2 linked regions of the Homo sapiens genome follow. The protein of the gene in region 1 interacts with the protein of each later gene in a pairwise test. Each region holds a gene or a part of one and is shown on either strand. Other genes may lie near its edges.

Region 1 (3,650 bases):
TGTGGTGGTGCGTGCCTGTAATCTCAGTTACTTGGGAGGCTGAGGCAGGAGAATCGCTTGAAGCCAGGAGGCTGTAGTAAGCCAAGATCGCGCCACTGCACTCCAGCACGGGCGACAGTCAGACTCCATCTCAAAAAAAAAAAAAAAAAAAGCTGATCGGATGGGACCATTCCCCCTCCAGCTGGCCCATGTGCTGGCCCCCTCCCCAGGCTGTCCCCTCCCCGGCACATACAAGTTCTCTAACTCCCGGACCCACCCTGTCCAGCTAAGAGCTACCAGCACTGATTCCCCAACCCAGGTCCCCCAGATCAAGAGTAGAGGCAGCACAGTCAGGTATGAGGGACACAGGGGGCACTGTCCTGGAGGGGCGGGGAACAGGTGCCCCTGGCTAGGCACAGGGGTGATGCCGACCACTCTACCCATCAGTGAAAACATTCACAGGCTGCCATGGGAGGGGGACCAGTGGGCAGGAAGCAGAGCAGGAGGCTGCAGCCAGCGGGCAGGTTGGGGAGCTGGGCTGGGCAGGGCAGGGGGCCACAGGGGATGGGAGAAGGACTAGCGGGACATGGGGGTGGCTGCTGGCAGCCCCCCATCTGGTAGCAGTGGGCCCATCCCTCCTCTTCAACCTGAAGGCCAAGACCTGGGGCAGAGCTGGCGGAGTCCCCCTGTTCCCCAACCACAGGTATGGGAAGTGCCAGCGGGCTGAGTGGGTCAGACTACCCCACATGTGGGACAGTGACACAGGACGCTCCGTGCCCATCCAGGCCCCCAGTGTGCAGACGGACAGATGGTGGGCCTGGGCGGGCAGCAGGCCTGGCTGTGGAAGGCAGACGGCCACTTGCCTCCTGCACTTCAGTTTCCTCACTGACCCCAAAAATCATACCAGAACCTCAGGGGCGCTGAAGCCCTCGGGGCAAGCAGGGTAGCCCCCAGCCTTCCCCGGGCCCACCATTCTCGGGTTCCAGCCTCTGCCGCCCGCGCCCAGGCTACTGCGTCCCTCCTCCTGGGCGCACCATGTTCTGGCCACAATGAACTCCATTCAGCCCCATGAATGAGCCCTCTCTGGCCATCGGCCTCTGCCCTCACTGCCCTCTGCCTGGAATACGCTCCCCTGCCCCCTCCTCTCTGCCTGGCTTCTTGAGAGTCACCCTCGGGTCTGGACTGAAACGCTGCTGCCTCCAGGAGGCCTTCCTGACTGCTACCTCCTCACAAATGTAGAGTAAATGGCTCCTGCTACTGACAGCTGCCCCTGAAAGCCCTCCGTGTGCCATGAGACTTATCACCTGGCACTTCTGTGCTGCACCTGAGCAGGGACCACGCTACCTTGCTGTGGCCTGGGCAATGCTGGCCCAAGGGCTTCAGAGGCTGAAGGGCACAGGTGCCTACACACAGCACAGCACATGCCAGACCGGCGGCTCTTGGCTGGTACCAGGGCTATCTGCCTCTGGGGGCATCTGGAGTCGTGGTGACAGGGGCTCCACTCTGCACAGCAGGCGGGTGGGCAGGCAGATTCCTCGGGGTGCCCGCTGCGGGCCAAGACCCTGGAGGAGCAGCTCTGTGCCCGGCCAGCATGTATCCTTCCTTCTGCCCCACATTTCCTGACAGCCTCTCTTCCCAAGTACCCTGACAGGAGGGTCAGGCTCCCTAGCCGGACTCCCCAGGTGGCGCAGGCTGGAAAGGGGTGGCGCCGGCTTCCTTGCCGACAGGCAGGACAGGGTTCCCAGCCTGCAGAGGTCCAGGCCAGAGCCTCTGCTCAGGAGCAGGAGCCAGTCGGCTCGGGAGGAGGGAAGGCAGGCCGCTGTGCGACCTTGGGCCGTTCTCCGCACTGTTCTGGGTGCCAGCCCCGTCCCCACACACGGCACCTCCCACTGGAGCCGATCACCTACAGCCTGAGGCCCCTGCAGCCTGCTCTGTGGCTCTGTCACCCCCTCCCCCAGCCCAGCATTCCGCACCGCGTGATTTATGGCTCCTGTCCGCCTGGCGCGGTCTCCATCCTGGAGCCGGCCGGCGGCTATTCCGGGGAAACAGACCAGAGCGGTGGGCCTCACGCTGGACGGTGGGTCACAGCCAGAGGAGGGAGTGAGGGAGAAGCCGGTGGAACTGGGTCCTCCGGAGGCGGCCCCCGGGCAAGGCCAGCACCACAGAGTGCACCCTGGGGAGGGACACAGCCCAGGGTCAGGGCGGACAGATGGCATCTCAGGTCCTAAAACCATGGGGACCACTGCTTCGGGGCCAGGGGCTATGCTCCAGGAAACTTCTGAGGACCGAGGTGGCCCCCAGGGAGTCCCCCAAGAGCACGGAATCCAGGAAAGGAGGTTCACCTGGCGGCCTGAGATGGAGAGAGAGCCAGTGGGAGAGAGAGGCAGGGTGGGGATGGCCTCTTTGTTCTGAGCCGCCAGCACAGGCACACTGGTGTAGACAGGGGAGCAGGCTCTCCCGGAGATCAGGTGACCGGGGTCCCTGGTGGCTCAGGGCACAGCGATGTATTGTGGGACGGAGCTACTGGTCCCCGTGCAGGAAGGAAGCTGGTCAGCCCCGTCCCCCGCCCTGGACCAAGCCTGCCCTGCCGCTCCCAGGAAAGCCCAGCCTCCCTGTGATGCAGGTCCTTCCCAAGGCCCAACCTTCAGAGACAGCCAGCTCTGCCCAAGAACCTGGCAGGGGGAACAGCTTCCCTCATGAGAGAGCAAAGGCTGGGAAAGTCAGTCCGATGGAACTCAGGCCAAGACCCTGAGTCCCCCAGGACAGGTGCCACTGGGCCAACCTGCTCCCCAGGAGGCTGCTGCTAGACACCTCCTGCAAGAGAAAAAAGGTGGAGGCGGAGCCTCACTTGGAAGGCGGAGCCTCAGGCTGGAGGGAGGAGCCTCGGCTGCCGCAGGAACCACCGACAGCACCTTCCTCCCTCCTCCACTTCCTCCATCCTCACCTGGAAGCACAGCCCCTCCAGCCTAACCTCACTAAGTCCCAGGGCTGCAGATGGGAGGGGAAAAGCAGCCAGTTCCCCTTCCCCCTACCCCCATCAACGCTGCCTCCCTGGGCAGGGGAGCGGGGGCCAGCTGGCACCCAATGGACTGAAGCGTGCCAGAGAAGGGCCCTCAGGCCACAGCAGGGGCCAGGCAGGTTGCTGGGTCAGCAGGGTGGGAGGGGGCATGCACAGGGTTCTGAACCTCGTGGCCTTGGTCCTGTTCCCTGCTGCGTGCCCACGCCTGGTGCCCATCACGCACCCACCCAGCAGGCGCTCCGATGTTTACTGTGCGAAGGAAAGAGTGGGGGCAGGGGAGGGGAGGCAGGAAGAAGAGACGGAGAGACCTCCAGGCACACAGAGGACTTGGTGAAATCTGAGCGCCTCAAGGCACAGGTCCGCAAAGGCCCAGGACGTTCCGCTCCCTATCTGGGAGTCCCAGAGGCTGCACACTCTCTCTGCCCTGGGGGCTGGGGCTGCGGAGGCCTCCCTGGCCCTGAGCTCAGGGCTATGGCTGAGGCAGAGACTGGGCTCAATGCCCACCTGCAGCCTGAATGGCCACGGCTGCTGGGGAGGCACCAGGGGCCTGTCCACACTGCTGTGGGCTATGAGGTCCTGACACACAGTTCCTGCTCAGTCAGTGCTTGCAGACAAAGACACGAGAGAGAGAAGCGTGGAGCCCAGCACCTCT
Region 2 (3,650 bases), on another chromosome or scaffold:
TCGTCCATCTCAATAATCAAAACTATACTCCAAGACCATCACTGCGTCTCACATCAATGAGCAAATGCCACTATAAAATCTAATACTGCAATTCAGGTAGGAGAGAAAGGGGCCTATTTCAATATGCTCTAGGAAGCACTGGTGTCTTCAAGGTTCATCATCTACGCCAGGTGACTGAGAAACTGTGTATAACTGATAGCCCCTCACACTGCAATAAGGAAACTCCTGGACGAAAACCATGTTATGGAGGGAAGCAGGGTGCCTGCCTCTTATAACTCTACTTTGTATATATCTTGTACCTCCTTGACACTCCAGATTCTCCTAGGAGGCTGGGAAATTCGGGCTTCCTTTCCTTAAATGAGAAAAGCCCAGTCTTCCCAGACTGATACTTCCTAGTATACAAAGAATAACAAAATACAGGAAAAAGGAAGACATCATCCCCATTTCAATCAAGTCTGATCCAGGACATAACCAAAACATTGTGTGTTCATTAGTAGTTTGTACTTCTTTTTTCCTTTTTCTTGAGACAGTCTCACTCTGTTGCCCAGACTGGAGTGCAGTGACACAATCATAGCTCACTGCAGCCTTGAACTGCTGGGTTTAAGTGATCCTTTTGCCTCAGCCTCCAGAGTAGCTGGGATTACAGGCGCAGAATCTTCCCGTCAGCAGTTGGCATTTCATTTGTTTGTGAAATGCTTGTTCACGTCCACTACCAATTTTTCTATTGGGGTGGTGCTTCCTATTGATATAAGTCTTTCTTGTAAAGAACAATATCTTGTTGCAAATCTCTTTATCTGTCTTTCAGGTTTTGTTTTTGAGTATGTTTGGTCACATAATAAATGCTATCAAATCTATAAAAAGTTTCCTTTATTGTTTCTGCCTTTGGAGCCACATTTTGAAGGGCTCTGTGGCTGGCTATTAATAACCCTCCCCCCAGTGGCATAAATCAAACTCCCCTTTCCTTCTAACACTATGACAAGAATCCACTGCAGAATCTTTCTGCATTAAGCACATATTGGTTTAATGAAAAAGAAATGTTTTTAACCGTAATGAATGCTGTAATAAAAGCCACAGAAAAATTCAGAATACAATACTTATTTTTTTAAGTTCTAATTAACTTAACCTTTAAAATCATTACAGGGATTCTTCTGTTAGTTCAATTTCTATACTTTTCTTAGAAACCTTTATCTAGAATTGTTAGGGAAATGCTCTATCTACAAATTCCCAAACTTGATATTTCACTACTTCATTACCAAGATTCTCATTGCTTACTGCTTCTCAATTCATTTAGTTCATCAGGCTTCTTATAAAACAAGTAAGTGTTGGGGCTTGGTCTTACACCCAGGCAATCTGACTCTAGAGTCTTATCTCTGAACCCATTTGCTATCCCTAAGCCTACCAGGCCACAAAGTGATACCAAAAAGTAACAATTAACCTAGTCTCCTATACAGCAGCCTCACCACACTTCACCCCAGGTTTCCCCCCAATTGTTTAGAATTTGACTTCTCTATAGATTGCCTGGCACACTACCTACGGTGGTTCTTCTTCCCTTACCATGTGCTGATCTTCCTCCTCACCATCCCAGTGAAAGGACTTACCTCCAACAATACAGGAAAATCAGCAAAAGTGCACAGGAGCTCTGCCACATGCTTTCTTCTCACTCGGACCCCATTCTGTTTCTTTCTCAGACAACTCTCCCTCCTTACCACGGTCAACATTTGTCACTTGTGCTCCAGATGGCTAACTCCATCACCTCCAATTGCTCTCTGTCCACTGACTTCTTCCCCTCAACCTTCAAATATGAAGAGGTCTCATCTATCTTAAAATTCAAGTCACTTAAGGCAATATAAGACTCTCTCACTTCTTAATGTATTCAGCCTTCTCTGAAATTGCATTCACATGATTATCTGACTTCTTCTCCTTCACCCTGAACTGTACATTTTCCCCTCCAAACCTACTTCTAGAATCTCTCTTCCAGTGGCTTCCTGGTTTTCCCACTCCTCTGACCCCATGCCTTTCTTCCAGTTTCTTCTTTGGTCTATGTCAAACAGCCTCTCAGGCAGTCTACTTCAAATTAGCCTCTTCCTTCTATTAATTCCTAACCGTGGGCTCCAATGGAAGATTCAATCCACCAGTTCTTTCTCTCTTTGTGGTTGTCTCAGAATACCCAGCAGATGACTGCAGAGAGTCTAACGTAAAGCTTTCAAGTCCTCCCAAACCTTATCTCCAACCTGCCTGTAGCATACTTTGACTTAGATATCGCACCTTAAATTTAACACATCAAGTCTAATTTATCATTTGCACAATTTTTATTTCTTCTACAACCAGCTCTTCCCTATTCTTAAGTAACATCTTTATTAGTTTTCCAGCCACCAAGTTTAGAAACTTAAGGATATATCTCCGACATCTCTTTCTCATTACTTTATAGCCACATAATCACCAAGCCTTCATGGTTTTTTGTTTTATTTTATTTATTTATTTATTTTTAAATCCTTCTCTTTCCATGTCTACCTTTACCAGAGATTTATCATCTCACACATAACTCAATAGCTTTCTTACTGATCTCCTGGCACTGGGCTCTATCCCTCCAGTGCAAACTGCATGTTCAAACACTTTCAGTGACTTCCCAATGTTTCCTTATTCTGGCACTCTAAGGCCCTAAAATTCTCACTGGAAGTCAACCTTTCTGAGCATCTCCTCCACACCACCATACTAGGCTCCATGAGGAACACCCACTGAGGTCAGGCAGGGCTGCTCACTGCCTCTGGATCTGTGCTATTTGATATGATAACCACATGTGGCTACTGAAACATAAATTAATTTTTTAAAAAATGCTGTTCCATGTGTGGCTACAGCTACTGTATTAGCACAGATGTGGAACATTTCCATCACTGCAGAAATTCTATTGGACAGTGCTGCTCTACAGATACTCAACACTCATGCTTATCTCCCAGTTTTTCATGCCATTACTCTGTCTATAATGTCCCTCTTCCTTCTGCCTATGCAAACTCACATGTCCTTCCAGGCCACAGTGGTCCTGATGTGAGTTGTCTGTACAATTTACTCCTATACTACCTTGTAACGGCTCTTATAATGTTGCTGCATTTAATTTTTCATGTTTGTGTATACTCTAATTATTAAGCCTCAGAACTAATAAATATTCAGGGAATAAATGAAGCATATACTTATTACAATACTGCAGCAAAATGATCAAATAAGGGCCCATTTAATATCCCTCCTTCATTAAAAAGATACGTTTCTTTTCCATCTAAACAAACAAAAGATCTTGCATTTAGTTAACTGAATAATGGCTTAATTAATGCCTAATTATAACCGTTGAGAGAGTCTCCCCCCCACCTTTTTTCTTGAAGTGTTTGAAACTAAAAGAAAAAAAAGCTATAAAGGTCTGGAATACTTCTACTTTGCATAAGCACACCACAAAGAAACCACACACACACACACACACACACACACAAAAAGACAGGGAGAGGATAATACATGAATAGTTGGAGTAACTATACCCTAACAATCTCAGATTGTAGAGCAAAATATCCACAGTACAGCAGCCCTACAATTAAGGGGAAACTACAAATAAAGCATTAAAACTTATGTATAAAAATATATTCTGAATCAACAGAGAGACCCCTCTC

The links. The genes of interacting proteins can lie anywhere in the genome.
Region 2: the proteins of PIAS4 (region 1) and SMAD1 interact in a two-hybrid assay, tested with the Homo sapiens proteins (2 studies listed by BioGRID and IntAct).

What each region holds. Positions count from the first base shown.
Region 1 is NC_000019.10:4,014,182-4,017,831, reverse strand, and holds part of PIAS4 (E3 SUMO-protein ligase PIAS4), read right to left. Parts: intron 1-3,650.
Region 2 is NC_000004.12:145,488,302-145,491,951, reverse strand, and holds part of SMAD1 (mothers against decapentaplegic homolog 1), read right to left. Parts: intron 1,676-3,650; exon of another isoform or gene 1-1,675. UniProt on the Homo sapiens protein: Transcriptional modulator that plays a role in various cellular processes, including embryonic development, cell differentiation, and tissue homeostasis.